7 linked regions of the Homo sapiens genome follow. The protein of the gene in region 5 interacts with the protein of the main gene of each other region in a biochemical or structural test. Each region holds a gene or a part of one and is shown on either strand. Other genes may lie near its edges. The genes, in order: ARNT, AHR, TAF1, DAPK1, GTF2F1, GTF2E1 and ABL1.

Region 1 (4,653 bases), on a different chromosome or scaffold from region 5:
CGATGATGAGGCTGCTGGCCCTGCCACTGTGGCCAGACACCCACACCCTCTGCTGTCCGTGTCTGGAATTGTCCTGCAGTCTGTCCAGTCTCAGGAGCTAGAAATACAGCAAGGAAGAATAAACAACTCCAATCTACACAATTCCATTGTGTACTAATGCCACAAGTAAACAACTATAGGTAAGCCATTAATTTTACCTAGGATAACTCTGTCCTTCTCTCTGCCAATCAATGCCTTTTCTATCTCAAAACTCAGCCCTAAATTAATTCTTCTTCTCCAGGCAGCCTTTCCATAGAGTTCTTTACTCATTTAGGTTAAATGTGCATACTATTAAATGTATAAAAATTCACATGATTTTTGTTATATGTGCTAAAGTATTTTTCATGTGGGTAGTTTTTTTTTTTTATTTTTTATTTTTTTGAGACGGAGTTTCACTCTTGTTGCCCAGGCTGGAGTGCAAAGGCGCGATCTCAGCTCACCGCAACCTCTGCCTCCTGGGTTCAAGCGATTCTCCTGCCTCAGCCGCCCGAGTAGCTGGAATTACAGGCATGCGGTACCACACCCGGTAGAGACAGGGTTTCTCCATGTTGGTCAGGCTGGGGTTGAACTCCCAACCTCAAGTGATCCGCCTGCCTCAGCCTCCCAAAGTGCTGGTATTACAGGCGTGAGCCACCGCACCCAGCTGGTAGGTTTTAAATTCTAAATAGATTGTCACCTTGCATTTCCCTACAATCAGGTCAGTGTACCCACAACACAGGCAAACAACTTTAACTACCAAATCCTTTCTCTTTAGTGGTGCGATTTTCCTGTTACTCTCCTTATGGTCTGGACTCACCAAAGTTAGATCCACGATTGGTGAGACTAGGGTAGGCAGCAGCACCAGGCGATGCAGTTGGGGCACCAGGGAGGGACATGGAGCTGAAGGAGGATGGAGTCTGAAAGCTGCCCACACCAAACTGGGAAGTACGAGTCTTAGCAGTAGCCTGGGTAGCCACCTGCTAAAGAGAGATGGAGAGGGGATATAGAACAAATACAGCATTAACATCATTGCACATACCATGCCTATGAGAGTCAACACTGTCAATCACTGCATCCTTCTGAACCAAGCTCATCACTTATTTCCTATTGTATATTTCTTCCAATTAACTCTCAATCTCTCTTGACACTATTTTTTAGGCAGCTGAGATAAAATTACAAAAAAGCAATGAACTATGGGATTAATAAAAATTGTAAGAATTAAATGAAAGCATCTTATAAACTGTGAAGTTATATAAAACTAGAGGCATTCATAACAGTAAAGTATTATATGCAGGCCAGGCGGGGTGGCTCATGGCTCATGCCTATAATCCCAGCACTTTGGGAGGCCAAGGCAGGCAGACCACCTGAGGTGAGGAGTTCCAGACCAGCCGGGCCAACATGGTGAAATCCCCGTCTCTACTAAAAATACAAAAATTAGCTGGGCATGGTGGCACGTGCCTGTAATCCCAGCAACCCAGGAGGCTGAGGCAGGAGAATCACTTGAACCCGGGAGACAGAGGTTGCAGTGAGCCAAGATCGCGCCACTGCACTCTAGCCTGGGCAACAGCGAGACTCTGTCTCAAAAAAACAAACAACAAAAAAAGTACCATATGCAGAGAAAAACTACTCTGCACCATTATTCTGTCTGTTCTGCATTCATTTGTTCCTAATGATGTATTTTTTATAAAAACTATTTTCTCATGAGAGTTCTGTATATGCATTATAGAATATTCAGAAAGTGAAGGAAAATATAAAGAAAATAAGAATCATTCATAATTCCATGGTTAACATGTTTGGATAATTTCTTCCAGTTTCTATTTTCTCATGCATTTTGTACACAATTGAGATCGTATTGCATATAACATTCTGGAACCTGCTTTTGGTTTTGACTTTTTAAAACTATTACTTGTATAACATAAATATATAGTAATATTAAAGAATCTTTCTTTAGACAGTGTATTTATTGTGCGTTATATTATATATATGAATATTATAAAAGAATTTTTCGGCTGGATGCGGTGGCTCATGCCTGTAATCCCAGCACTTTGGGAGGCCGAGGAGGGCGGATCACGAGGTCAAGAGATCAAGACCATCTTGGCTAACACGGTGAAATGCCGTCTCTACTAAAAATACAAAAAATTAGCCAGGCGTGGTGGCGAGCACCCTGTAGTCCCAGCTACTCGGGAGGCTGAGGCAGGAGAATGGCATGAACCCAGGAAGCGGAGCTTGCAGTGAGCCGAGATCGCGCCACTGCACTCCAGAGCCTGGGCAACAAAGTGACAGTCTGTCTCAAGAAAAAAAAAAAAAAAGAATTTTTCAGCCAGGCGCGGTGGCTCACGCCTGTAATCCCAGCACTTTGGGAGGCTGAGGTGGGCGGATCACAAGGTCAGGAGGTTGAGACCATCCTGGCTAACATGGTGAAACCCCATCTCTACTAAAAATACAAAAAAAAAAAATTAGGCGCAGTGGCGGGCGCCTGTACAAGTCCCAGCTACTTGGAAGGCTGAGGCAGGAGAATGGCGTGAACCCGGGAGGCAGAGCTTGCAGTGAGCCAAGATCGCACCACTGCACTCTAGCCTGGGCGACAGAGCAAGACTCTGTCTCAAAAAAAAAAAAAAAAAGAATTTTTCAACTTTTTTGTAAACAGACATCACTGTAAGTTAGTCATTAATTTTCTCCTTTGCTCCTGCCTTATGGAGTCCTAAACAAAGAGGAAACATCTTAGAATTTACTCCAAAACAAATCTGAAAATCAGACGTGCTCAAAACGTTCCAAGTGAGCAATTCTGATTTAAGGTGAAAACCACAGACTCTACTGAGATTTTTTTTTATTATCTGTGATTTTTAATTAGCTACTCTCAACAAAGATGGAAATTGGAAACCGGAGAACAGGGGTTGGGGAGAAGGTATTTAAAATAGAAAACACTGATTTTACATACGGAAAAAAGCCCAAACAAACAAAAAATAATACACAGGGAACACACAGATGATAAGTTTTACCTGGGCAGAAAAGCCTGAGCGGGTAGTAGGGGTCCAAGTTGGGGTTGCTCCTTGGGTGGGGTTGGAGTGGCGGGAAATCTGGGCCAACATCTGTCCTGCAGAAGCTGATGGCTGGACAATGGTTACAGGAGGGGCTAGGCCACTATTCCTAGGAGTGAATAAATGAGGTAAAAGATTAAAAGGATAGATTTATCACAGAAGCTAGGAATCAAAGGACAATCTAGTGCTATCCCTAGATCCCCTTGACTTCCTGCAGGTTAAGGAAAATTTGATAACAATTTGGAAAAGACAAGAAAGACTGACAGTCACACACTGACCAGGACACACAGAGATGGAGCCTAGAACATGGCAATAGGACAGGTGCAAAGAAATAGGAGGAAGAAAAGCAGCTTGTTTGCCTCACGCTAGGCCCTACAAGCTTCACTGCTTTTTCTGAAGTAACCAGAGAAAGCAAGGGAAGAATAAAATTTGGATTCAGCAGCTGAATCCCTCAGGGCCCTGTAAAGCAGCACATATATACGGGGCTCACCTGAAATTCTCTGCCGGCCGGGGGGTAGGAGGGAATGTGTTGCCCTGGGAGAATAGCTGTTGGGTGGCAGGGACAGTGCTGGAGGAGATGCCTTTACTCTGATCTGTGGACCAAAAGGAGTTGGGGAAGGGCCAGTCAAGGGGCTGTAGTATATTAGTTCAGCAAGTTCCTATTTACTCAGGTGGTATTATGATTAAGTGGAAAAACACTGGAAGATTACTGACTGGGCAGTGGCATGCCCATCAGTAAGTGATCTAAATGAGAATTTAAAAGGATAATGAGAAAGAAACATACCCGCATTGATGTTGTGATAGATTTCTGAAAATCTTGGATCTCTATCCTGGGCAAATAAACCATCTGACTTCTCAAGGGGCTTGCTGTGTTCTGGTCCTGTGGTTGTCACAGGCTGAACCACCTGTGGAATACAATGATAAAAATAACCATTAAAGATTTAACATGACAATTCAATAACCCTAAAATTCATATACAACATATGTACATTCTAACTAGTACCGGAGAACACTTCCTAAGTAAATACTCCCTACCCTCTTCAACGAAGAGGACACAACTCACCTGGGAATGATTGTAGCTGGCCAGTCCATCTCTTCCTGGTACCATGTCCAATTCTGTTTGCTGTTGCTGCTGCCTATATGTCAAAGGCCAGTTGACAAGACAAATAGAAAAAAAAATTTTTTTTAAAAAAGAATCTGGAGAAAGAACCTTAAAACAAATTAAACAGGCCGGGCATGGTGGCTCATGCCTGTAATCCCAACACTTTGGGAGGCCGAAGCAGGTGGATCACCTGAGGTCAGGAGTTCGACACCAGCCTGGCCAACATGGCAAAACCCCGTCTCTACTAAAAATACAAAAAATTAGCCGGGGGTGGTGGCAGGCACCTGTAATCCCAGCTATTTGGGAGGCTGAGGCAGGTGAATCACTTGAACCCAGGAGACAGAGGTCACAGTGAGCCTAGATCGTGCCATTGTATTCCATCCAGCCTGAGCAATGAGAGCAAAACTCCTTCTCAAAAAAAAAAAAAAAAAATTAACCAACCGAACAAAAAATATATGGGATTGCAAATGACCACCCCCTGGGTGACTGCTCAAC
Region 2 (4,149 bases), on a different chromosome or scaffold from region 5:
TGCAGGGCCATAGAAAATGAGCCTATGGTAAGAAGTTTAGTGAACCGCAACACTGCAATATAATGGAAGGATGGAAAACAAAACCAGATCTCAGGAGATCAAAACTGTTGTTACAAAGGAAGAAGGTAAAGAAGTAATTTAATAGAGAAGAAAGTGCAGGTTCAAGTAATTTTTTTCCAGGATGGAGGAGGACCTATTCACAGGAAATCCTACAGAGAAGGAGAGCCTCTCAGAAAGCAGGTGTCGAAGCTGTGTGCATGAGAACGAGAGAGGACGGGGGCTAACCCTGGAGTTCAGGAAACTCTCCTCCTCACATACTGGAGGTAAGTCCAAGGATAGAGGAATTGCTGAGGTGAAGGTACAAACTTAGGATGATATCCTTGATTTTATTAGTAAAAACGGAAGCAAGGTCATCTGCAGACAGTGAAAGAAATGAGAGATGTCATCCAGCCCTGTCAGTGGCCAACATCCCTGGGTCGGTGTTTGGTAGAGCTGGTGAAATTGGACAAGCTAGAGTCATTCATGGTGACAGAAATCACCTAAGCGCAAGCAGAGATGCACTCAGGTTATCAGGATTTTTACTTGATTTTTTTCAGATCAAATAGTTAAAACTAAATATTTTATGTAATTCTTAAAGACTCAGGATTAGTCTAAAATGTTCAGAATTAAGTATGATGCTAACTTATGATATGCTAGTTGAGAAAAATGCCTAATTGTAAAGAACAAATATAAAACTAATAGAAAAATAACTGTCACAAGAATGAAAACATTTTCTCAGGAATTCTTCTTCAATCAATTCTAATTGCAGGGTTTTCCATGAATGTTCAACAGTTATGAATTTAAGGCCAAAGGCTTCTGTATCATTTATACTTATTAAACAGAAATACTAAGTTTGGGCAATGGTTTTTCTAAACTAAGCACAAAATACAGCTAACAAGGGTTATTTCGAATTTCTTCAGAAATATTCTTAAAATATTAAAATAGGATTTTGGATTTTAATCTAAGACACACTACTACACTGATAACACAGGGCTTTAAAAAAGTTCATTTCAGAAGCATTTTAATTTATGAAGCTACTGAGAGTGTTTTTTATATCCAGATAAAGGTCAGACATTGGGGGGCAAAATTGTATAAGAAGTTTATGAATTACTGACTTAACATATCCCTAAGTATTGTAGATTGCCCTCATCTAACATAGTTATAATACTACAGAATAAATAATTTCCTTTACGTGGACCAGAAAGAATTTACATTAAAACATATTATTCATATTTGTTATTTTATTATATATTATTGTATACAACTTTGATAATGAGGATATTATAAATCATACTTTAAGCAAAAATCTATGCATGATATATGTAAGCAGTAACATTTTGAAGAAAAAAGCCATGAAAGCATTTACCTAAAATTTAGTAACATCGAAAAACACTAGTTTGTGCATAGTAATGTTGAAAGCTTCATAATACACTAGAATACTGGTAAGTCTTCAGGTATTGTAAGAAAAACCTGGTACAGGAAAAGACTAAATTAGACACATCCATATCCTTAGATGTGCACATCATCTAGAAATAAATCCCACAATGTAGCAGTGCACTAAGTATCCTTTGTTTGGCACTTAACAATACAGACAAACGTGTATTTGGTTTAACGTGATTTTATTATTCTTAGATACATTTTAGTTATTTTATATAGATAAAAATATACAATATTGCTTTTCAAACTTTTAATTTTATAACTGTATAACTGATTGTCATCATATTCATGATTAAAAAGCCTATTTTCCACTAAACAATTTATCCAGTAACATGTGGAAGAGAGTAACAAAAATGGTTTATGTAAGACTTATAATAAAAGGTTTAAATGTAAAAATAGAGTATTAATCTAGACCTCTGGTCTAAATCCTTAGATACCTCATGCTGGAAACAAATTATGAAATGTTTCAGACAAATTTTTTCCAACACTTAAATTGATTCTACAGGTTTAAAGTTTTGACTGAAAATACACAGAACTCAGAGATATTTTGTCCGAAGCCATTTTTATATACATTAACTTACTAAAAAAAGTAAAAGAAATAAAAATTGTATTTTTTTTTTTTTTGGAGACGGAGTCTCGGTCTATTGCCAGGCTGGAGTGCAGTGGGGCGATCTTGGCTCTGCAACCTCCGATTCCCAGGTTCAGGCTATTCTCCTGCCTCAGCCTCCTGAGTAGCTAGGACTACAGGCTCACGCCACCATGCCCAGCTAATTTCTGTATTTTTAGTAGAGACAGGGTTTCACCATGTTGGTCAGGATGGTCTCCATCTCTTGACCTCGTGATCCACCCTCCTCGCCCTCCCCAAGTGCTGGGATTACAGGCGTGAGCCACTGCACCCGGCCAAAAATTGTATTTTAATACATCTCAGTTTGGGATTCCATCAGATTTTCAAATAATACATGCAAAATGTGTCTAAGCTCTTCAGCTCTCATATCTAAAGAAAAGAAGAGCTGAATGCAGTGGCTCACGCCTGTAATCCCAGCACTTTGGGAGGCCAAGGTGGGAGGCTCACCTGAGGTCAGGAGTTTGAGACCAGTCTGGCCAACATGGTGAAACCCGTTTCTACTAAAAATACAAAAATTAGCTGGGCATGGTGGCACATGCCTGTAATCCCAGCAACTCGGGAGGCTGAGGCAAGAGAATCACTTGAACCCAGGAGGTAGAGGTTGCAGTGAGCCAAGATTGTGCCACTGCACTCCAGTTTGGGCGGCAGAGTAAGACTCTCTCTCAAAAAAAAAAAAAAAAAAGAATAAAAGATGGTGTCATTTTTTCTTTTAAACCATGTTAGGACAGTAAAGTTGGTAGGGTGATTAATTTGCCTATTGGTAATGAAGATCAGTATATCATTAAAAAAACCTAAAGTTTGAAGGTAAACGAACTATGTGGTTGTCTTTTTATTAATACCAACTTTAAGCAGTTGGATTCATTACTTGATTTCTTAGAAAGACACATTGATAAAGTATGTAAAGCCCCAACAAATTAAGTGCATATATAAGGTATGGACTTTTTAAAATGAAAAACTGCAAATATCTTACAAATAATTTTGTTCATTATATCTATACAATGCACCATTCAATTCACTCATTACAATACTTTGCACCAAACCTTGCTATCTGCAATCTTAACACTCCTCAAATATGAGAAAAACACATAGTTTCCACTGTTCTAAGAAGCGAAATTTATAAAGTCAACACAATATATTATCAAGGATTATAGGTCTAAAACAGTTTTTAAAGACAATTTATACACATTGAAATGGGTGCTTTGCTTAATTAAAAAGCTAGAAATAAAGCTTCTTGCAATTTAATAAACAAGGTTGCAGTTAACAGCAGATTTTTCACATTGCAACATTCAACTATCATCATGGAGATATCAATAAAGGTAAAGAGTGGTATATTTATTTCTTCTGAAAACACTGTTGAGGAATTTAAGTGCTATTGTCTTAATATTTTTATAATAATTAAGAAATAATTTGGAAAGACATTTTACTTTTAAATTTTTTCAACATAAGGCACATAGCAACATTTATAGTCTAGAAACAACTAAATTATGTAATAAATAATTATTTTTTCGATCATTATTTGCCCTTTACCTGAAGAAAGTAGGTAAGCAGTGGAGTTAAAATATGCCTGAATTAATGAAAATGGTTGGATTTAGGAAACACAAATAATATTTGTGTGCAGAAAGATATTAATTTAAAAAAGAAAAAGAATACTTTATATAAAATATACATCCTAGAGTGTTATAGGTAGAAAAAAATGTGAGGCACTTAGATGAAACAGTGAAGGAGGAAAGCACTGAGATTATCTTTTTATAAAAAGCACCAAACCATTTATTTTAACATCTGAGATAAAAGCAGAGGTTAACATGATAGGAAAAACTAGTTTAGTTCTCTAACTTTGTATTTGGGGAACTAATAAGAATCCAGTAGCTCAAAACTCAAAGTATTTTATTTTTACTGTGACAGAAATAATTCAAATAGAGAATATTTTCTAATTTAAAAGAATCTTAGTTTCCCTGATAAAGTTTTGTATATTTTGTGGTGCCCAGAATAATGTGAAATGTAGACGGTACCTCACCACTCCGTGGCAGCACCCTTTCTATCTTGACTGT
Region 3 (4,653 bases), on a different chromosome or scaffold from region 5:
TTTTTTTTTTGAGACGGAGTCTTGCTTGCTCTGTTGCCTGGGCCGGAGTGTAGTGGCGCAATCTCAGCTCACTGCAATCTCTCCCTCCTGGGCTCAGGCGATTCTCCTGCCTCAGCCTCCCGGGTAGCTGGGATTACAGGCATGCGCCACCATGCCCATCTAATTTTGTATTTTTAGTAGCGATGGGGTTTCTCCATGTTGGTCAGGCTGGTCTCGAACTCCCGACCTTAGGTGATCTACCTGCCTCAGCCTCCCAAAGTGCTGGGATTACAGGCATGAGCCACCACGCCTGGCCTGAAGTTAAAGATCTTTCTGAACTATAACAGTACTTTATAGTATATTTTTGTTCCCAAGTCCCTTTGTATTTAGAATTCTAGTTTCCTATTTTTCTCCTTAAATAGGTTTTTTTTTTTAAGGTATGCCATGATTAATGTAAAAAACTTTGAAAATACAGTATAGTGTTAAAGTCACTGGTAATCTATCTGGAGATTATCAACTGTTAAGTTTTGGTGTATTTTCAGTGTTCTGTGTGTGTATGTAGTTGAGCTCATTTCCGTATGTACAGTTTTGCATACTGTGCTTTTCACTTACTAAATATTTTTCTCTCTTTCATTTTTTATTTTTCATTGTTGAGACAGGGCCTCACTTTGTTGCCCAGACTGGTTTCAAACTCCTAGACTCAAGTGATCTTCCTGCCTCGGTCTCCCAAAGTGCTGAGATTACAAGCAAGAGCCACCCCACCCAGCCACATAAATATTTTTGTGTCATTTAGAGTTCTTTATAAAAATGTTTAATGACATGGGAAACTCGTTCATTTTATTTTAATTAAATTATTATTTTTTGTAGAGGTAGAGTCTTGCTATTGTTGGTCAGGCTGGACTCCTGGGCTCAGGTGATCCTCCTGCCTCAGCCTCCCGAGTAGCCAAGACTTCAGGGGCATGCCACCACGTCTGGCTTGAGAAACTCATTTTAAATGGAAATAAAGAAGATATGAAACAACATATATGATATCCTATTAGTGTAAATGAAAAAAAGCAGACTATATAAACATAGAAAGCTGGATTACTTTTATATTTTGGAGGAAAAACAAAATTTTTTCTTTTTTGAGACAAGAGTCTCTGTCGCCCAGGGTGGAATGTGTTGGCGCGATCTTGGCTCACTGCAACATCTGCCTCCCAGGTTGAAGTGATTCTTGTGCTTCAGCCTCCCGAGTAGCTGGGATTATAGGCGTGCACCGCTGTGCCCAGCTAATTTTTGTATTTTTAGTAGAGACGGGGTTTCACCAGGTTGGCCAGGCTGGTCTTGAACTCCTGACCTCAAGTGATCTGCCTGCCTTGGTCTCCCAAAATGCTGGGATTACAGGCGTGAGCCACCACACCCGGATACAAAAATGTCTGATTTTTAAAACCTAAGAAATAGGTTTTTTCCCTTCCATTCTGCCCACTTTATGGGTTATATATTACTATTACGAATGTTTCATAATTTACCGATAACATGTTGCATTTGTTAATACAATTTATTACCATTTATTGTTAGCATACTTTACCATATCATTTATTGTCATAATTTAACCAATTCCTTCTTAAACATTTAGGCTATTTAAATTTCAACTATTATAAACAGTATTGCAGTGGACATTTTTGACTGCAACATTATTTTTATTTATTTATTTTTTGAGACAGAATTTCACTCTTGTTGCCCAGGTTGGAGTGCAATGGCACGATCTCAGCTCACTGCAATCTCTGCCTCCTGGGCTCAGGTGATTCTCCTGCCTCAGCCTCCTGAGTAGCTGGGATTACAGGCATGTGCCACCACACCCAGCTAATTTTTGTATTTTTTGTAAAGATGGGGCTTCTCAATGTTGGTCAGGTTGGTCTTGAACTCCTGACCTGAAGTGATCCACCTGCCTCGGCCTCCCAAAATGCTGTGATTACAGGTGTGAGCCACCGTGCTGAGCCTGCAACATTATTTTAAAGTGAGAAATACACTGTGTAGGTTCCTTTTCAGTGGACACATGAATAACTCCACTAACTCGCTCTACTAACATGAGTAACTCTTTTTATCTTTGCCAGAATCTTGATTGAAAGGGGCATAAATGTTTTCTCTGTTACTATTTCCTCCTTGCACTTTGACTAGGTTTTGCAGCCACTCTTGATGATGACAAACCTTGGTACTCCATTTTTCCCATTGACAATGAGGATCTGGTATATGGACGCTGGGAGGACAATATCATTTGGGATGCTCAGGCCATGCCCCGGCTGTTGGAACCTCCTGTTTTGACACTTGATCCCAATGATGAGAACCTCATTTTGGGTATATTACTGGCAGAGGCCAGTGTTTCTTCTCCTTTGAAAACTTGCTGTTAATGTCAACGGGCAGGAGGAAATCAGAAGGGTTGGAGATGATTAGGACTAGAAACCTGTAGGTAGCGGCTTGAGAGAGCGAAGTTTTGGCTGTTAGTTTATATTATTTGTGTATATGCTTAGGGAACACTCACGTAGGAATGTTGGAAAGTTGCAACTTTGAGATGTCAAGAGCATAGTTTGTTCCGTTAGTGAATCATGGACTCGAAACTTCTAGGTAGCAGTTTGAGAGAGCAAAATTGTGGCAGTTAGTTTTTATTATTTGTGTATTCCCTAGGGAAAACTCATGTAGGACTGTCGGAAAGTAGTACCTTTGAGATGTCAAGCGTGTAGTTCACTTAGTGAATCATGTACTAGAAGTGATTTGGGATGGGATGAAAAGATACAGGTGTAGTTCAGTTAGTAAATCGTGGACTAGAAGTTACCTGGGGGGGGGTGGGATGAAAGGTCTAGTTAAGACCTTCACTGGAACATCCGTCACCTTAAAGAAGAAAACTGGATACTTGTCTGTAGGAAAGGTGAATCTTCAGGGAGAGCAACTCAAGTGATTTTTGTTTTATTCTCAGAAATTCCTGATGAGAAGGAAGAGGCCACCTCTAACTCCCCCTCCAAGGAGAGTAAGAAGGAATCATCTCTGAAGAAGAGTCGAATTCTCTTAGGGAAAACAGGAGTCATCAAGGAGGAACCACAGCAGGTGTGTGAAGAAAAAAGGGGCTTGGTGTTTAGAAGAACAAAGAAAGGTAATAGAGAAGGATAGTCTGACCGAGATTTGTTTGATTATCTATCATTAGAACATGTCTCAGCCAGAAGTGAAAGATCCATGGAATCTCTCCAATGATGAGTATTATTATCCCAAGCAACAGGGTCTTCGAGGCACCTTTGGAGGGAATATTATCCAGGTACAAATAGTGTCTTTTCTGTGATAGAGGAGAACCCCATGGCTTTGTTCTGACGGAGGATATGGGAAAATCTTGCTTAGGATGGAATTAGCTAATTTTAACCCTTCTATTTCCTGTTTTAGCATTCAATTCCTGCTGTGGAATTACGGCAGCCCTTCTTTCCCACCCACATGGGGCCCATCAAACTCCGGCAGTTCCATCGCCCACCTCTGAAAAAGTACTCATTTGGTGCACTTTCTCAGCCAGGTCCCCACTCAGTCCAACCTTTGCTAAAGCACATCAAAAAAAAGGCCAAGGTATAATTGAATTCTGGTTAGAAAACAGCTATAAAGGATATTGGGGTATAAATTAAGGGAATGTACCAGGTATTAGATTGTATTAGGGAATTGGTTATTTTCTCAGATGTGATAGAATGTTATTTTGGTTATTTAGGAGAATGTCTTTATTGTTAGGTGATGCATGTGAAAATATTTAAAGGTGAGGTGTCAGAATGACTGCATCTTTCAAAAACTGTCCAGCAAAGTCTATAGAAAGATAAAAGTTTAAAAAAATGGCGAAATATAAACAGCGACGTGGGATAATAAGTGTTCATAGTACAGTCGTCCTTCGTTATCTCTGGGAGATTGGTTCTAGGACCTTCTCTGGATACCAAAATCTTTAGATGTTCCAGTTTCTGATAAAATAGCATAATATTTGCACATAACCTATGCACATCCTCTCCTATAGTTTAAATCACCTCTAGATTACTTATAATACCTACTCCAATGTAAATGCTATGTGAATAGTTGTTAACACTGTTATTGGTTAGGGAATAATGACAAGAAAAGTCTGTACCTGTTCAGCACAGATGCACTTGTATTTTCTGAATATTTTCTATCTATGGTTGGTTGAAATCACGGATGCAGAACCCATACATGGATATGGAGGGCCGACTGTACTATTCTTTGAACTTTACAGTATGTTTGAAAATTTTGATTATGAAATTGGAAAATAGGTAAAATGTTTTTGGTGTGTTTGTCTCAGATTGAACAACGTCATTGTGTGTAGTAGTGTCCTGTCAGGAGCTAGATGGTATTTTCTTTGTTCTGGACAGATGAGAGAACAAGAGAGGCAAGCTTCAGGTGGTGGAGAGATGTTTTTTATGCGCACACCTCAGGACCTCACAGGCAAAGATGGTGATCTTATTCTTGCAGAATATAGTGAGGAAAATGGACCCTTAATGATGCAGGTTGGCATGGCAACCAAGATAAAGAACTATTATAAACGGGTGAGTCTCTGCTCAGAAAATTTTTTTCCCATACATAATTCTGCTTATGCTTCCATAAACTTTTATGTACAAACTTTTTGTTATTAACATAGCTGTAGTGAGACAAACTGCAAACTTACATACA
Region 4 (3,787 bases), on a different chromosome or scaffold from region 5:
ATCTTTCACAAGGTCCAGGTGAACCTGTGCCGGTGGATCCACCAGCAAAGCACAGAGGGCGACGCGGACATCCGCCTGTGGGTGAATGGCTGCAAGCTGGCCAACCGTGGGGCCGAGCTGCTGGTGCTGCTGGTCAACCACGGCCAGGGCATTGAGGTCCAGGTCCGCGGCCTGGAGACGGAGAAGATCAAGTGCTGCCTGCTGCTGGACTCGGTGTGCAGCACCATTGAGAACGTCATGGCCACCACGCTGCCAGGGCTCCTGACCGTGAAGCATTACCTGAGCCCCCAGCAGCTGCGGGAGCACCATGAGCCCGTCATGATCTACCAGCCACGGGACTTCTTCCGGGCACAGACTCTGAAGGAAACCTCACTGACCAACACCATGGGGGGGTACAAGGAAAGCTTCAGCAGCATCATGTGCTTCGGGTGTCACGACGTCTACTCACAGGCCAGCCTCGGCATGGACATCCATGCATCAGACCTGAACCTCCTCACTCGGAGGAAACTGAGTCGCCTGCTGGACCCGCCCGACCCCCTGGGGAAGGACTGGTGCCTTCTCGCCATGAACTTAGGCCTCCCTGACCTCGTGGCAAAGTACAACACCAGTAACGGGGCTCCCAAGGATTTCCTCCCCAGCCCCCTCCACGCCCTGCTGCGGGAATGGACCACCTACCCTGAGAGCACAGTGGGCACCCTCATGTCCAAACTGAGGGAGCTGGGTCGCCGGGATGCCGCAGACTTTTTGCTGAAGGCATCCTCTGTGTTCAAAATCAACCTGGATGGCAATGGCCAGGAGGCCTATGCCTCGAGCTGCAACAGCGGCACCTCTTACAATTCCATTAGCTCTGTTGTATCCCGGTGAGGGCAGCCTCTGGCTTGGGCAGGGTCTGTTTGGACTGCAGAAGCAAGGGGGTGATGTAGCCCATCCTTCCCTTTGGAGATGCTGAGGGTGTTTCTTCCTGCACCCACAGCCAGGGGGATGCCACTCCTCCCTCCGGCTTGACCTGTTTCTCTGCCGCTACCTCCCTCCCCGTCTCATTCCGTTGTCTGTGGATGGTCATTGCAGTTTAAGAGCAGAACAGATCTTTTACTTTGGCCGCTTGAAAAGCTAGTGTACCTCCTCTCAGTGTTTTGGACTCCATCTCTCATCCTCCAGTACCTTGCTTCTTACTGATAATTTTGCTGGAATTCCTAACTTTTCAATGACATTTTTTTTAACTACTATATTGATTGTCCTTTAAAAAAGAAAAGTGCATATTTATCCAAAATGTGTATTTCTTATACGCTTTTCTTTGTTATACCATTTCCTCAGCTTATCTCTTTTATATTTGTAGGAGAAACTCCCATGTATGGAATCCCACTGTATGATTTATAAACAGACAATATGTGAGTGCCTTTTGCAGAAGAGGGTGTGTTTGAAATCATCGGAGTCAGCCAGGAGCTGTCACCAAGGAAACGCTACCTCTCTGTCCCTTGCTGTATGCTGATCATCGCCAGAGGTGCTTCACCCTGAGTTTTGTTTTGTATTGTTTTCTGACAGTTTTTCTGTTTTGTTTGGCAAGGAAAGGGGAGAAGGGAATCCTCCTCCAGGGTGATTTTATGATCAGTGTTGTTGCTCTAGGAAGACATTTTTCCGTTTGCTTTTGTTCCAATGTCAATGTGAACGTCCACATGAAACCTACACACTGTCATGCTTCATCATTCCCTCTCATCTCAGGTAGAAGGTTGACACAGTTGTAGGGTTACAGAGACCTATGTAAGAATTCAGAAGACCCCTGACTCATCATTTGTGGCAGTCCCTTATAATTGGTGCATAGCAGATGGTTTCCACATTTAGATCCTGGTTTCATAACTTCCTGTACTTGAAGTCTAAAAGCAGAAAATAAAGGAAGCAAGTTTTCTTCCATGATTTTAAATTGTGATCGAGTTTTAAATTGATAGGAGGGAACATGTCCTAATTCTTCTGTCCTGAGAAGCATGTAATGTTAATGTTATATCATATGTATATATATATATGCACTATGTATATACATATATATTAATACTGGTATTTTTACTTAATCTATAAAATGTCGTTAAAAAGTTGTTTGTTTTTTTCTTTTTTTATAAATAAACTGTTGCTCGTTGCATTAGTTTTTTTGATCTTTAATTCAAAAGGATTTCTTTTTACTTGTTGTGGTTTTACTGTTGTCACCCCACATAGCAGGACAACCCAGTCCAAAACCTAGAAAATCATTACACCTCAACTCTCAGGGTTATTGAGATGCCGATTATTACTCAAATTAGGAATGGTGTGGGAAAGTGAAAAGAGTTCAGATAATTTTCACATTTCTTCCCATTGTAAATAAAACAGGCCCCTTAGATTTTTCTCGGGTGAACCAAAAAACCAAACTGACTCTTTTAGTTTTGGCAACAGGGAACAGAGGAAGCTTTGCGACTTCTACACAAAAATGATGGGGATGGCACCAGGAGGAAGAGAAAACCTACAGCAAAAAGACCTTCGTGCCTTTCTTACATTTATAGTTCATTTATGTTTCAAGCAAGTTGTCCACAATAAACATGATTAACTTTCATAATGAGAAAAGAAGTCCTGATGAATAAAATTAAAACTAGACATAGGTGTGTCTACAAAGGATGAGACTGAAAGGGAAACTGTGGTCGCCTTAAGGAGCGGAAACTCCTTTTCTTGTCTCAGCTCCTTCCTGAGTGTTGGCTTCACTCTCTCCTGCTTCAAAAGACTGCTTCCTATAGCGGCAGGTAAGCTAAAAACCAGAGAGAAGGGGTTTGTCTCTTGCAGCATCTATATGTAAAATCCCAGAGTGGGACTCTGATTCGATTAGCTTGTGTCACATAGCTATCCCTGTGCAAATTTGGAAAAGACAGAGTTACTAGGATTGGCCTCATCACCCAATGAGCTGTTGGGGGAGAAGCAGTTCTCCCCAAGACTAGGGTTCTGTTAGTAGAAGAAAGGTGAGGGAGGATGCTGGGGAGACACATTTGAGTTACTGCAAAAGTCTTAATACTTTTTTTGAGAGAGAGGGCTTGGCTTCTGTGACCCAGGCTGTGGTGCGGTGGCATGATCATAGCTCACTGTTGCTTCAAAGTCCAGAGCTCCAGCAGTCCTTCCAACTCAACCTCCTGAGTAGCTAGGCCTGCAAGGGCACACCACCGTGCCTGGCTAATTTTTTTTTTTTTTTTTTAAGGAGATGATCTCACTATGTTGCCCAGGCTGGTCTCAAACTTCTGGCCTCAAGTCATCCTCCCACCTCTGCCTCCTGAAGTGAGAGGATTACAGGCATGAGCCACAATACCCAGCCAGTGCTTTTGTTTTATGCAAGTCCTAGGACAGGCACCTGTTCATATGATTGTGGGGTCCCCGGGCTCCTGAAATGTTGGGACCACAGTCAGGAATCATTGCAACCCAAAGGTCAAGAGCTTAAGGATCACTCAACTCACTGCCCCATCTTGGGAAATGCCCTGGGGCACTCTTCAGGGGGCAGTTTGGAGTCTGTACCAGGAGCTTCTGTACCAGGAGCTCTGGTCAGGCTGAAACTGGCCACTGCCCACTGTATGCAGCTGGCTCTCTCCCCTGCAGGTGGGAGGAAACAAGACCATAGCTTACCTCCTGTGTCCATAGTGAGAATCAAAAGGTGCAAATTCTAGGAGTCAGAAAGAAAAGCCAATCATGGGACCCTGTCTCTTAGAGTTGCTGTGAAATGCACTCAGTTGCCATGTTCCTCGTCACCTCTTTACTATAGTGTAACAGCCTCTGGGTACCACGTCCA
Region 5 (4,653 bases):
TGCAGTAAGCTGTGATTGTACCACTACACTCCAGCCCATGTGAGAGAGAGAGAGATCCTGTCTCAAAAAAAAAAAAAAAAAAAAGAAGGGCCATGGCTCAGCTCTCCCGGGCTCTGGCCTTGCCTCCTGACTGACATCACTGCTCCTCCAGGCGGCCTCGCCTGACTCTCATTCTTTTTTCTCTGAGACGGAGTCTCTCTCTGTTGCCCAGGCTGGAGTCCAGTGGCGTGATCTCGGCTCAACACAACCTCTATCTCACGGGTTCAAGCAATTCTCCTGCCTCAGTCTCCCGAGTAGCTGGCACTAGAGGCATGCACCACCATGCCCAGCTAATTTTTGTGTTTTCAGTAGAGACACGGTCTCACTGTGTTGGCCAGGCTGGTCTCAAACTCCTGATCTCAGGTGATCTGCCTGCCTCAGCCTCTCAAAGTGCTGGGATGACAGGCGTGAGCCACTGTGCCCGGCCCCACTTGCCTCTCATTCTAGGGCCACTGTGAGCGATGGTAGACTTTGCCTTCACTGGCACTGCCTGAGCAGGCACCTCTGTGACCTAATGCCCAGGCGCCCGTACTCACCCTCCTCACCACTGGCATCACTGGCATCGGACGACATCTCCAGGTCGTCCTCCAGGTCGTGGATGCGCAGCTCGCTCGCCTTCCTGCGGCCACGTTTCTCCTTCTCCTCCTCATCCTCGTCCTGGTCCTGATCCTTGAGCCGCCGCTGCTGCATGATGCTGAAGTGGTTCAGCACCTTGTTCCTCCTGCGGGCCAGGCACAGGGGGGCTCATGCCGGGCCTGGCACCACCCTGCATCTGTGCTTGCAGGGGGCGAGCCCCAGGGCACCACCCACATAGCCTTCAAGGTGATGTGGCCCCCGGGGACTTGGGCTGTGGCACAGGACTCCCTGAAACCACACGGATAGAGCCAGCCCTTCCTGCCTTCCCGTTCTGCCCCGAGTCCCTCAAAGAGCAGGTCCCCATGTGCTGCTGGAGTCTCAGCACCTCCCTCGGACTCAGAGTCTGGCCCCAATCCAGTCACACTGGTTTCTTGCTATTTTTTATTATTATTTTTTTATTTTCTGAGACAGAGTATCGCTCTGTCGCCCAGACTGGAGTGCAGTGATGTGATCTCGGCTCACTGCAACCTCCGCCTCCTGGCTTCAAGCAATTCTCCTGACTCAGCCTCCCAGATAGCCGGGGTTCCAGGCGCCTGCCACCACGCCCAGCTAATTTTTTTTTTTTTTTGTATTTTTAGTAGAGACAGGGTTTCACCATGTTGGACAGGCTGGTCTCGAACTCCTGACCTCATGATCCACCTTGGCCTCCCAAAGTGCTGGGATTACAGGTGTGAGCCACCGTGCCCAGCCAGATCTTTTGTTATCTTAATTTATAGATGTATTTTTCTTTAATGACAAAACATACTGTTTCCATTGGAACAATGTAACGTTGTCTCATTGCTCAGGGAAGCTTTAAAAAACAGGACTGCAGGCCAGGTTGGGCGCGGTGGCTCACGCCTGTAATCCCAGCACTTTGGGAGGCCGAGGCAAGTGGATCACCTGAGGTCAGGAGTTTGAGAACAGCCTGAACAACATGGTGAAACCTCATCCCTACAAAAAATTAAAAAATTAGCCGGGCGTGGTGGCATGTGCCTGTAGTCCTGACTACTCAGGAGGCTGAGGGAGGAGAATCAATTGAACCCAGGAGGCAGAGGTTGCAGTAAGCTAAGATTGCCCCACAGCACTCCAGCCTCGGTGACAGAGTAAGAATCTGTCTCCAAAAAAAAAAAAAGGACTGCATTTAATAGGAATGCATCTAACATGGGCAAGGCCCAGGCTGGTGTGAAAGATAATGAAACTGCTGCTTAACACTGTGAGTGGCTTTACCACACTGAGCCATGCACCAAAAAACAGTGACAGTTTGGTGCAGTGGCTCAAGCCTGTCATCCCAGCACTTTGGGAGGGGAGGCCGAGGCTGGAGGCTCGCTTGAACCCAGGAGTTTGAGACCAGCCTGAGCAACATGGCGAGACACCATCACCATTTGTTCTTTTCTTTTCTTTTCTTTTCTTTTGAGTTGGAGTCTTGATCTGTCACCGAGACTGGAGTGCAATGGTGTGATCTCGGCTCACCACAACCTCCACCTCCCGGGTTCAAGCAATTCTCCTGCCTCAGCCTCCCGAGTAGCTGGGATTACAGGTGCCCGCCACCATGCCTGGCTAATTTCTGTATTTTTAGTAGAGATGGCATTTCACCAAATTGGCCAGGCTGGTCTCTTGGCCAGGCTGGTCTCGAACTCTTGACCTTGCGATCCGCTCTCCACGTGCCCAGCCTGAACAGTTCTTAGCTAAGTAGATTTAACATCTGATCAAGAGATGGCATTCTGGCCGGGCACCATGGCTCACACCTGTAATCCCAGCATATTGGGATGCCAAAGCGGGCAGATCACTTGAGGCCAGGAGTTGGAGACCAGCCTGGGCAATATGCTGAAACCCCTTCTCTACTAAAAGTACAAAAATTAGCCAGGTGGGGAGGTGCACGTGTGTAGTCCCAGCTACTCGCAAGGCTGAGGCAGAATCGCTTAAACCCAGGAGGTCGAGGTTGCAATGAGCCAGTGAGCTGAGATGGTACCACTGCACTCCAGCCTGGGTGACAGTGAGACTGTCTCAAAAAAAAAAAAAAAAAAAAAAAAAAAGAGATGGCATTTCTCCTTTGGTTAACATCCAGGTTTTACACAATTCTATAAAATGCCAAATTCTTCTCCCTAAAACTTACAAAGCAGATTCTAAGGAAAATACAGCAAAAGCGAACCTGCCCCCCCAGCAATGATTGATCGACTGATTTTACAGTGGAGCCCCAGGAACTCAACCAAAGTGGAGCAGGCAGGCAGACCTGGGGGCTGTTGTTCCAGGGGAGCAGGGGTACAGAAACTGCCCCACAGGCTCGGAGGCTCATGACCTGGTGGGGAGGACGCTCTGACTTCGTGCCATTTACCGGGGTTGCTTTTGGAGCTGAGCCAACCTATGACTCTTCAGAAATTTTAAAACCAAAGAAAATGATTAAAAACTAAAGCAGGGGCTGGGCATGGTGGCTCACGCCTGTAATCCCAGCACTTTGGGAGGCCGAGGCAGGCAGATCACGAGGTCAGGAGATCGAGACCACGGTGAAACCCCATCTGTACCAAAAAAATAGAAAAAAATTAGCCGGGCATGGTGGCAGGCGCCTGTAGTCCCAGCTACCCAGGAGGCTGAGGCCAGAGAATGGCATGAACCCGGGAGGCGGAGCTTGCAGTGAGCTGAGATCGCGCCACTGCACTCCAGCCTGGGTGACAGAGCGAGATTCGGTCTCAAAAAAACAAAACAACAAAACTAAAACAGGCCGGGCGTGGTGGCTCACGGATGTAATCCCCACACTTAGGGAGGCTGAGGGGGGCAGATCACCTGAGGTTAGGAGTTTGAGACCACCTGGCCAACATGGTGAAACCCTGTCTCTACAAAAAATACAAAGTTAGCCAGGCGTGGTGGTGCATGCCTGTAATCCCATTTCTCTACTTGGGAGGCTGAGGCAGGAGAATTGCTTGAACCTAGGAGTCGGAGGTTGCAGTGAGCTGAGATTGCGCCACTGCAGTCCAGCCTGGGCAACAAGAGCGAAACTCAGTTCAAAAAAAAACACACAAACAAACAAACAAACAAAAAAACACCAAAGAGGGAAAAAGGTGTTTTATTTGTTTTGTTTTGAGACGGAGTCTCGCTCTGTCGCCCAGGCTGGAGTGCACTGGCAACATCTAGGATCACTGCAAGCTCCGCCTCCCAGTTCACGCCATTCTCCTGCCTCAGCCTCCCGAGTACTGGGACTACAGGCGCCCGCCACCATGCCCGGCTAATTTTTTGTATTTTTAGTAGAGACGGGGTTTCACCGTGTTAGCCAGGATGGTCTCGATCTCCTGACCTCGTGATCCGCCTGCCTTGGCCTCCCAATGTGCTGGGATTACAGGCGTGAGCCACCACACCCAGCCGAAAAAGGTGTTTTTTTAACCTTTGGGAGCCATCGACTCTTTGAGCATCTGCTCATCTGTGACCTGTGCAAATGCCATTTGTAGATGCGTCCAGAGTGCCCTCCCCACCATCTGCAAGCACCCTAGGGTGGTGGTGGCCCTACGGTCTCATCCAAAGCCATACATCCAAGACCAAGTGCTCTGGGCCCCCAGCCTCGTCCCCCTGCCCACAGTCACTCTGCACTGGCCTCATGCACTGTGTCCCTCCACAGCCCTTAACTGCACCCGCCCCACCTCTGAGGCCGATGTCACTGCTAGAGAAACCCTCCTCGGGTGCCCTGCCTGGAGCTGCTGCCCTGCAGTGGATCAGGCTGTGTGACCTGCAGCCTGCGGAAAGCCAAGGGGGCAGTTAGACCCCACCCTGCTCTGCCAATTTGAGCTCCGGGTCACAGACTCTGGCTCTGGCAGCACCCTCTGGGGTGCCCCATTGTGGCCCTAAGGCCTCCTATCTGTTTCCTCCTGAACTGACAGCTCTGAGACGGCCGAGTGGGGTCTGCCCTGGTTACCCCTGAGTCCCCAGCTCCCAGCACAGGGCCTGGTGATATATCCATGGCAAGGCACCCCATTTCCCTCACTTCTGTCCCCAGCCACCACCCAGCCCACTCAC
Region 6 (3,979 bases), on a different chromosome or scaffold from region 5:
CTGTCACTGACTGTCTCTCCTCACCAGATTATTGTGCCACTCAAGAGACAAACCTATCTGATAAAGTAATATAAATTCTATTGAGTCTTATTAGATGTCACTGAAAGGGAGGTAGTTACCTATTAAATTATATCTTCCCATTGATTTTGAGTATAAATTTAGAGACGTTTATCCGAGAAAATGATAAACTCTGGATTTTTTCATTTTACTTAACTGAGGGTCTACTCACCCAAAAATCCTAGCATCAACCTAAAAAGACCTTGCTTTTGACACTCTACTATTTCTTTCATTAAATGTGTTTGATTCTTTTTCAAAATGAAAATATCTTTTTCATAATAATATATTAAGATCACTGTAATTCTCATCCCTAATTTATATATATACATTTATATATGTATACCTACCTCACAGATTATAAAAGATTGAATGAGTTAACATATATAAAGCACTTAAAATAGTGTCTGGCACACAGTTCACTATATGTTAGCTACTTTCTTCTTCACACACACACACCCCTAGAAAAACTGAATCCTATATTTAACACATTATGGATATCTTTTCCTCTCAATACATTCTTTTTTGGGGAGGGATGGGATCTCATTACATTACCCAGGCTAGCCTTGAACTCCTGGCTCAAACAATCTTCCTGCCTTGGCCTCCTGAGTACTTAGGACTAAATACAGATTTAGTGAGTATATCTATCTTTCTATTCTATTTCAAATACTGCTGCAATGAATACCTTTATTCTTACCTCCATATTCACTTGTGACATTTTCCCATAACACGAATTCTACATATACATGAACACACTTACAAAAAATAGTTTAAAAAATTAACTACATTTTAAAAATTAACATCTGATTACCATTTTATTTAAATTAACTTCTAGAACTATAAAAGTTTAAAAAACAATGTTTAAAAGCTGAAGAGCATTGCTTCTTGGTCTTTTGGCTAAGATCAAGTGTAAAAGTTGAATACTTTACGTATACAAGGTACAAAGGCATCTTATTGCACAAAAAGTTTAGATCCCATATGCATCTATCATTTGAAATATGACTAATAAAAAAGTCTTTAACATTTTTTTAATGGGAAGAATATTCATTTTAATATGCCCCAAGATGTTACAGAACTTAAAATGAACAAACTTCAGTCAGTATAAAACAGATTTATTGTCAACATTCAGTCATTAACACAACCCAGGTAAATGAAACATCACTCCATACAAGGCTCATATATTCTTTACATGTGTACTATAAAATGATAAATACTTAAAAATTACAATGCAAGGAAAAATATTGTAAGATATACAATTGTTACAGACCCTTGTGTGAAAGTTCTTTATTTTTAAAGTTCTGCCTTAGGGAAAATACCATGCTACATATCAGAACCCAAAATAAACTGTTTCCTGAGGTTACAATGCTCAATGGTATACTGGATGCACCCTAAAATACTGTGTCTGACAAAAATTAAAAGAGAGACAGCCTTCAATGATGTTTAGAAAGAGGGAGAGTGACAGAGAGAGAGAAGAGTAATCAATTATTCTGTTGATTTCTGCTGGAATGGCCTCATTAAACAATTTATAGCACTGACAAGAGGTCTGTACCCAAAGGGAACAAAACCAGGACCAGTCTCAGCTTTACATAAAGGATTTCCAAATCAGACTAACTGACACAGTTCTAAGGCACTGTTACCAATGCTTGTCACTCTTCAACCCTTCACAGAGACTTCTTGTCTTACGTCCATGTTTTTCTAATTTCTTCCTAAGGGTTTACCAATTATACTTCTGTTTTCTATCATCCTAAATCCAAACCAAAAGACATTAAGCAATACAATAAAATCTACCAGTCTGGTCAGTTCTAAAGACACAAATTCTGGTTTAGACATTAATCATAAGACTCAAGTATATCTCTCCCCCTTCCACACACGCTCCCACCTCCCCTTACATATTGATCCATCTCAATTTTGAGGAAATGCTCAAATTCTAAGCAAAATTTCAGGATTTTTTCCCCCAATCAGTGATTTGACTGTTGGCAAGCTGCTTTGGTGGGCAGCAGTATAAGAAATTGTTTGGAATGCCTGGCTAGAACAGATAAAATGGATGTGATCAGTGAATTATTGTAACCTATTGTAGTAAACAGATGGATGGGAAGGATTTACCTTATGAACTTCCCTCACTCATTTCAGAAGGGAGAAAATTATGTCTTAATAAGGCAAGAAAAAAATCAGATAAGAAAATACAGCACTTTGGGAGGCCGAGGCGGGTGGATCATGAGGTCAGGAGATCGAGATCATCCTGGCTAACATGGTGAAACCCTGCCTCTACTAAAAATACAAAAATTAGCCAGGCATGGTGGCAGGCACCTGTAATCCCAGCTACTCGGGAGGCTGAGGCAGGAGAATCGCTTGAACCCAGGAGGCAGAGGTTGCAGTGAGCCGAGATCACGCCATTGCACTCCAGCCTGGGGTACAAGAGTGAGACTTCATCTCCAAAAAAAAAAAAAAAAGAAAAGAAAATACAGTAAAATATTAATACTGTAGTGACAGCAAGGAAGGGTAGGATTCTCAGCACCCTACCTTGCTGGGAAAGTTTCTGGCATAAAAGTCAAACTCTCTACCATCAATCTTTGCACAAGGATGGACAGTTGCTTACATCAAGAGGGGCAGAAAGCCACTTAAATACTTTTCTTCAAAGATGAGACATTCCTTTTTGAACTGAGCATTAGAGAAAGGAGAAAGAATTAGGGAAAGCTCACTCAAAGAGGTCCTCAAACATGCGTTGTCCCATTGCTATATATGCTTCCTTTTCTTCTGGTGTCATCTGGGCCACTAGCTCTGGCCGTTGGCTCACTTCACTGTAGGAGAACGGACGGCCAGCCACCATGACAATGGGGTCATCTGCTACTTCTTCAAACTCGTCATCTTCCTCTTCATCCTCTTCTCGTTTATGCACAGCCACAGCTGCCGGACGGGGTGGAGAATCATCATCTGACTCACTGGTCTCGCTTTCTGAGTCACTGCCATTGGCAGCGGTCACTGGAGCAGCTGCCCCCACTGAACCAGCCATGGCAGAGGAAGTCTTTTTCTCGTGAATGAGCAGTGCTCGCATGACCTCTTCGTTGTCATCAGGCCCAGCATGGCCTTCCTCACGCTCCTGAAATGCGTCCATATCTATGCCCCCTGGGGAGTAAAACTCAGAAAGTCAATATCCTTAAATATAAATGGCATTTCTTTATAGCATATAGACAATATTTTAACATATATTTAAATAATACGATAAAATAACAGACTTCACTGGTTCCATTTTTGAGCTGCTATCCATAAAATATTCAAAATATTTCTTACAAACTGGAGCTTAAGTAGCATAATGGTCAAGTACATTGGCTTTAAGAGTATTATAGCATAGATTTGAATCCTGGTTCTTCTACACACAAGCATCTTGGGCAAGTTATTTAATCTCTAAACTTCAATACCTTTTTCTGTAAAATGAGGTGATAAAAGCATCTACTTTCTAAGGTTCTGAATAAAAACATATAAGATAATGTCTATGAAGAATCGACTAGAGTAGCTGGCATAACAGAAAATCAAAACATGGCTCTTTATCTCACTCAAGGTAAAAGCCAAAAGCTTTGCAATGGCCTATAGGGTCCCACATCATCTGGAATCCTTCCTGATCATCTACCTCTTACTTCTTTCCCCTGCTCATTCTTGTCTAGCCACAGTAGCCTCCATGGTATTCCTTGTACATATCAGACACACTCCTACCTCAGGGCCTTTGCATTACCTGTTCCCTCTGCCTGGAATATTTTTCCTTTAGGTACTCACACAGCTAACTCCCTTCCATCTTTCATGTCTTTATTCAAATGTTACCTTTTAAATGTATCCTATCCCTACATTCCCAATGCTCTATTTTTCCCCCATAGCACTTATTTCCTAACATAATGAATAACTTACATCTATTGTCTTTGTCACCCCCTTTCCA
Region 7 (4,653 bases), on a different chromosome or scaffold from region 5:
ACCTTTGGCTGCTTTGGGCCCGGGAGTCCCACCTCAGACATACTGTTTACAGGTTGCTCAGCCAGGAAGCAAGTTCCCCCGAGAGCTGCTCACACACCAGCAGGAAGGCAAGCCTCGCAGTACACAAGAACGGTCCAAAGCCCCTCCACCAGAGCAGGTTAGCCATGTGCTCGGCTTTTCACCAGGAGGCCTACGCCTGCTGAGCCACTGTCAGGGCGGGTAAACCTTAAACATCTAAGAGGCTGTGTAAATGGTCCCTTCCTGCAACTCTGCTGAAGCTTAGGGCCTTGGATCTGTCACTTCAGCAGACGATGAAAATAAATGTCAACTGGGCAAATTTCTTTCAAGAAAAGGAAAGACTCTATTAAGGACTAGAAGGAATCGAGGAACGTGACAGGGGCATCTCATAGAAGTCAATGAGGTGTGGACACATTCAGAACTAAGAACTTTAGGCAGAAGGTGGTGAAGAAAAATCAATCTTCAATTCCGCTATGTCAACAGAGGGTTACAACTTTGGGAAAGGATCAGAACAATGACAGTCAAATCCCCGGGTACCCAGAGATGTTTGAGCCTGTCAAGGCTCCTAGGAAATGGCAACGGCTCGGTTTAGTATTGGCCCCTTCAAGAGTCCAGCTCATAACTCCCAGTCCCCAGCTCTGGGCCCCGAGCTGATGGTCCTCGGCTGATGACCCACAAGGGCTGCTGAAAAGCTCAGAACACGAGGAGAGACACAAATAAGAGCCAAGAGCGGGGAGGCAGAAAGAAATCCTTTGGGGCCTTACAGAAGAATCTTCTAAATTCAGTTGTTTTCTAAAGATGAGCTAATTTAAAAATAAGAACCAAACTTATTCAACCCCAGCCTATTCCTCCTATCGGTCTTAAAATTTCCCCTTAGAAATCCAAAAAGGATTGCATCGAAGTTCTGCTATGTGAGCAGCATTTTTCAGCGGCGAGCCACACGGTCACACGCATAGCTGTGGGAGCTCCCTCTAACGATGTTCACTCATTCCAGTGATACGATCCCACCCAATACACCCCCTCGAGTGCGGCCCTCACAGGAAGGAACCTCCGCAGACGGTCTGCTGGATGACGCTGTGGGCTCAGAAGTCCCCAGGTGCCCAAACGGCTGATGGGAGAGTCTGTGCCAGACGGGGAGGGAGGAGGCAAGACGCCAAGGGAAGTGTGATGTGTTGCCCAATGGTGGACACTGCCTGGTCACATAAGCTCCCTGTGCTCTACCTGGAATGAAACAAACCCACCTGGCACATACTAGCTTTTAGACAGAGGCATCTTAGGCAGATTCTCCCTCTTTGGATGAATCTCAAATTCTGCAAATCACATATCCCATACGCAGGCCTTTCCTTGCCCATTTGAACAGTATTTTAGATCAACCCCTAGCTAATGAGCTGTCACACTAGATCATGCCTGCCTGCATCTGTTCCAAGGTTGCTGATTAAACAGCTCTAGGGAAAAGAAACCATTATCCTGTTCGGTGCAAACCTCAAGTGACTATCTCGGTGCAGCATGACTTGCCTTGGATAAATAGCACACATGGGAAGCAAGCTGTCTGCTCCAGAAAATCACCCCCCATGGGCGGTGCACCCTGGTGTTCTGATTCACTAGAAAGGTACCCTTGTGGTCTGAAGGCTCTTTCAAAGGGCCCAATGTCCTGAAGTACGTCCCTCAGAATGGAAGAACGCAGCTCCACCTCTGGGATAAGAACAATAACCCAAAAAGCAAGCTGACAGGCCCACGTCTAGTCACACAGGGATAACAGGCTCTTTTGTCCGTCACGCACACTGCAGTGTTGGTACTAAAGAATTCTGCAGTGGTGGAAAGCATCAGATATGGGCAATAGGATTTCAGCCAGAAGACTTTGGGATGTGAAGAAAAATAAGAACATTAAAAAGGAAGTATATGTATGTTCATATGGTACAAGTGAATGTGTGAAGACAGCCAAAAAAAAAAAAAGTTAAAAAGGTAAGTGGGGACTAGCCTATCAGATACCACAACATGGTATGAAGCCATAGCAATTACAAGTTTGGTACTGGCATACGGATAGACAGACCAATGGAAGAGAACAGAGAGGTCAACAGGCCTAGATACACATATACACTTGGTATATTTCTAACATGTAGGAAAAAGATGAATTTACTAAATGGCATAAAGATGACCCAAAATATGCCACATGGATATTCAACATAATGAGATGCCATTCTTTACCAGTCAGAGTGACAAAGGTGTTTTTACATGTCTAATAATAAACTGTTGGTGTGGGTTAAGGGGAAACAAGCCCTTTCATGGATTGTTTGTGGGAGAACAAATTTGTACAATTTCTATAGAGGGTGACCTGGTGATGCACATAACCTTCAGTCAGTTCTGGCAACTTATCTGCACACACTTACACCCACATAAAGAAGCACGTGCAACGCATTTTCAAACCAGGCCATGGGCCACTAGTCAGTCTATGAAATAAATTTAGTGGATTACAACCAGAATTTTTAAAAAATGAAATAGAACAGAATGAAATACAAACTATCAGAGTGCGTTACATACAGTAAGGGTAGGTAAGACTTCATGAAACTTTTGTTATATTGTGAGGGCTGGGTGGTGGTGTAAAATGAGTTTTTCTTACAGCAGAACCAGATTTTTGAAAAGGTTTGAAAGCCACCTCATATCAGCATTATTTACAATAACTAAAGATTGGAAACAACCTAAAAGTCAACCAGCAGGGGACTACTGAAATAAGTGACAGTCCATCCACGGTACACAGTCACTGGTAAGAATGAGGCAGCTCTAAACCTGTTGCCATAAAACAATCTCGAAGGTGTATTATCACACGGGAGAAGCATGATGCATTCGCGTGCATGTATCATTTGCGTGCCTTTTTGAATATAAACATCCACATAAACATCTATATACCATCCATCTGTGTCCAGGTAACTCTAGAAGGAACTAGTACCAGTGCTTGCCTCTGGGCAGGAAAAGTGAATTAGGAGACGATTACTTTTTACTGTAATTCATTTTGTTCTTTTGATTTTTTTTAACCATATGCATGCATTACATACTATTTAAAAAATATAGGCTGGGCACAGTGGCTCGTGCCTGTAATCCCAGCATTTTGGGAGGCCGAGGAGGGCAGATTGCTTGAGCTCAATAGTTTGAGACTAGCCTGGGCGACATGGCGAGACCCTGTCTCTACTGGAAATACAAAAACGGCCAGGCGTGGTGGCTCACGCCTGTAATCCCAGCACTTTGGGATGCTGAGGCAGGTGGATCACCTGAGGTCAGGAGTTTGAGACCAGCCTGACCAACATGGTGAAACCCTGTCTCTACTAAAAATACAAAATTAGCTGGGTGTGGTGGTGCATGCCTGTAATCCCAGCTACCTGGAAGGCTGAGGCAGGAGAAATGCTTGAACCCGGGAGGTGGAGGTTGCAGTAAGCCGAGAACGCACCATTGCACTCCAGCTTGGGCAATGAGAGCGAAAATGCCATCTCAAAACAAATAAACAAACAAAAAACAGCTGGGCATGGTGGTGTGCGCCTGTGGTCCCAACTACTCGGAAGGCTAAGGTGGGAGGATCACTTGAGCATGGGAAGCAGAGGTTGCAGTGAGCCAAGATCGCACCACTGTACTCCAGCCTGGGTGACAGGGCAAGACTCCATCTCAAAAACAAACAAACAAACAAACATACACCATCGGGACCACCTATCAACACTGTACCTCAACTACAGCCTGGTGCAGTAGAATAAACTGTGGGATCCAAGCCTATTCCATCAGTGACTCACTAGGTTGACATCGGGCAAGATCTCTTTATGCCTCCCTTTCTTTAATGCAAAGATGCAGGTATTATAGCAATACCTCAGTCAATGTTAACTCCTCCCTTCTCTTTATGGACTCTTAAGGATTATTTATATGAAGACCACAAAATCATATAGGCCACCTCCCTTACAACACCACACTTTGGGTTTGGTAAGCTGTGGGTTTGATCCCGGTTTTCACTGAAAACTGCATGCGTGTATGCACGTATGTCCACACACCTCTCCATGAATGTGTTCATCCGCAGGAAGAAGCCCACGTGCCAGGCGTCTGTGGGGGAGGGGATAGTAAAGTGGTCTTTCGCTCTAAGAAAGGTTATCTATTATTTGAATTTTTCTCGTTGGGGATGATTTCTATCATTATAAAATATTTTTTTTAAAGGAAGAATCTTATTGTAAAAAATGTGTCCAAAACCCAACAGATATTCCTCCTATTTTAAGTAACTTGCTAACAACAAAACTCTAGCAAGACAATAAGAGAATCATACCAGTCCCAGGAACTTGTAATATCACAGAACGGATCCTCAATAAAGGGTCTTCATAAGGCTAATGGAATGACTCCCACCTGAAAGATTCTTTAAACATCTTCTTGGTTGAGCTTTCTTGCAATAATTTATCAATCCGACAGCAGGACCTCTGGTTCCCCTGCCCTGGGCCCATCAGCGCCCCCTGCCAAGGGTCCCCTACCTTGCCATCAGAAGCAGTGTTGATCCTGTAATGGTACACCCTCCCTTCGTATCTCAGCGAGATGGACCTCTGGCCAGGACTGCTCTCACTCTCACGCACCAAGAAGCTGCCATTGATCCCGCTGCTCAGCAGATACTCAGCGGCA

Evidence for each region.
Region 1: the proteins of GTF2F1 (region 5) and ARNT form a complex in vitro, tested with the Homo sapiens proteins (one study listed by BioGRID).
Region 2: the proteins of GTF2F1 (region 5) and AHR form a complex in vitro, tested with the Homo sapiens proteins (one study listed by BioGRID).
Region 3: of the proteins of GTF2F1 (region 5) and TAF1, one has a biochemical effect on the other in vitro, tested with the Homo sapiens proteins (5 studies listed by BioGRID, with this or other methods).
Region 4: the proteins of GTF2F1 (region 5) and DAPK1 form a complex in vitro, tested with the Homo sapiens proteins (one large-scale study listed by BioGRID and IntAct).
Region 6: the proteins of GTF2F1 (region 5) and GTF2E1 form a complex in vitro, tested with the Homo sapiens proteins (3 studies listed by BioGRID).
Region 7: the proteins of GTF2F1 (region 5) and ABL1 interact in far-western blotting, tested with the Homo sapiens proteins (one study listed by BioGRID).

What each region holds. Positions count from the first base shown.
Region 1 is NC_000001.11:150,813,242-150,817,894, forward strand, and holds part of ARNT (aryl hydrocarbon receptor nuclear translocator), read right to left. Parts: intron 4,193-4,653; coding exon 4,120-4,192; intron 3,962-4,119; coding exon 3,841-3,961; intron 3,650-3,840; coding exon 3,547-3,649; intron 3,166-3,546; coding exon 3,018-3,165; intron 999-3,017; coding exon 836-998; intron 98-835; coding exon 1-97. UniProt on the Homo sapiens protein: Required for activity of the AHR. Upon ligand binding, AHR translocates into the nucleus, where it heterodimerizes with ARNT and induces transcription by binding to xenobiotic response elements (XRE).
Region 2 is NC_000007.14:17,343,264-17,347,412, reverse strand, and holds the end of AHR (aryl hydrocarbon receptor), read right to left. Parts: 3' UTR 1,266-4,149; downstream 1-1,265. UniProt on the Homo sapiens protein: Ligand-activated transcription factor that enables cells to adapt to changing conditions by sensing compounds from the environment, diet, microbiome and cellular metabolism, and which plays important roles in development, immunity and cancer.
Region 3 is NC_000023.11:71,379,607-71,384,259, forward strand, and holds part of TAF1 (transcription initiation factor TFIID subunit 1), read left to right. Parts: intron 1-2,136; coding exon 2,137-2,313; intron 2,314-2,929; coding exon 2,930-3,057; intron 3,058-3,154; coding exon 3,155-3,262; intron 3,263-3,384; coding exon 3,385-3,558; intron 3,559-4,355; coding exon 4,356-4,529; intron 4,530-4,653. UniProt on the Homo sapiens protein: The TFIID basal transcription factor complex plays a major role in the initiation of RNA polymerase II (Pol II)-dependent transcription.
Region 4 is NC_000009.12:87,706,501-87,710,287, forward strand, and holds the end of DAPK1 (death-associated protein kinase 1), read left to right. Parts: coding exon 1-864; 3' UTR 865-2,134; downstream 2,135-3,787. UniProt on the Homo sapiens protein: Calcium/calmodulin-dependent serine/threonine kinase involved in multiple cellular signaling pathways that trigger cell survival, apoptosis, and autophagy.
Region 5 is NC_000019.10:6,382,736-6,387,388, forward strand, and holds part of GTF2F1 (general transcription factor IIF subunit 1), read right to left. Parts: intron 761-4,653; coding exon 576-760; intron 1-575. UniProt on the Homo sapiens protein: TFIIF is a general transcription initiation factor that binds to RNA polymerase II and helps to recruit it to the initiation complex in collaboration with TFIIB. It promotes transcription elongation.
Region 6 is NC_000003.12:120,780,241-120,784,219, reverse strand, and holds the end of GTF2E1 (general transcription factor IIE subunit 1), read right to left. Parts: intron 3,178-3,979; coding exon 2,750-3,177; 3' UTR 1,151-2,749; downstream 1-1,150.
Region 7 is NC_000009.12:130,854,952-130,859,604, reverse strand, and holds part of ABL1 (tyrosine-protein kinase ABL1), read right to left. Parts: coding exon 4,509-4,653; intron 1-4,508. UniProt on the Homo sapiens protein: Non-receptor tyrosine-protein kinase that plays a role in many key processes linked to cell growth and survival such as cytoskeleton remodeling in response to extracellular stimuli, cell motility and adhesion, receptor endocytosis, autophagy, DNA damage response and apoptosis.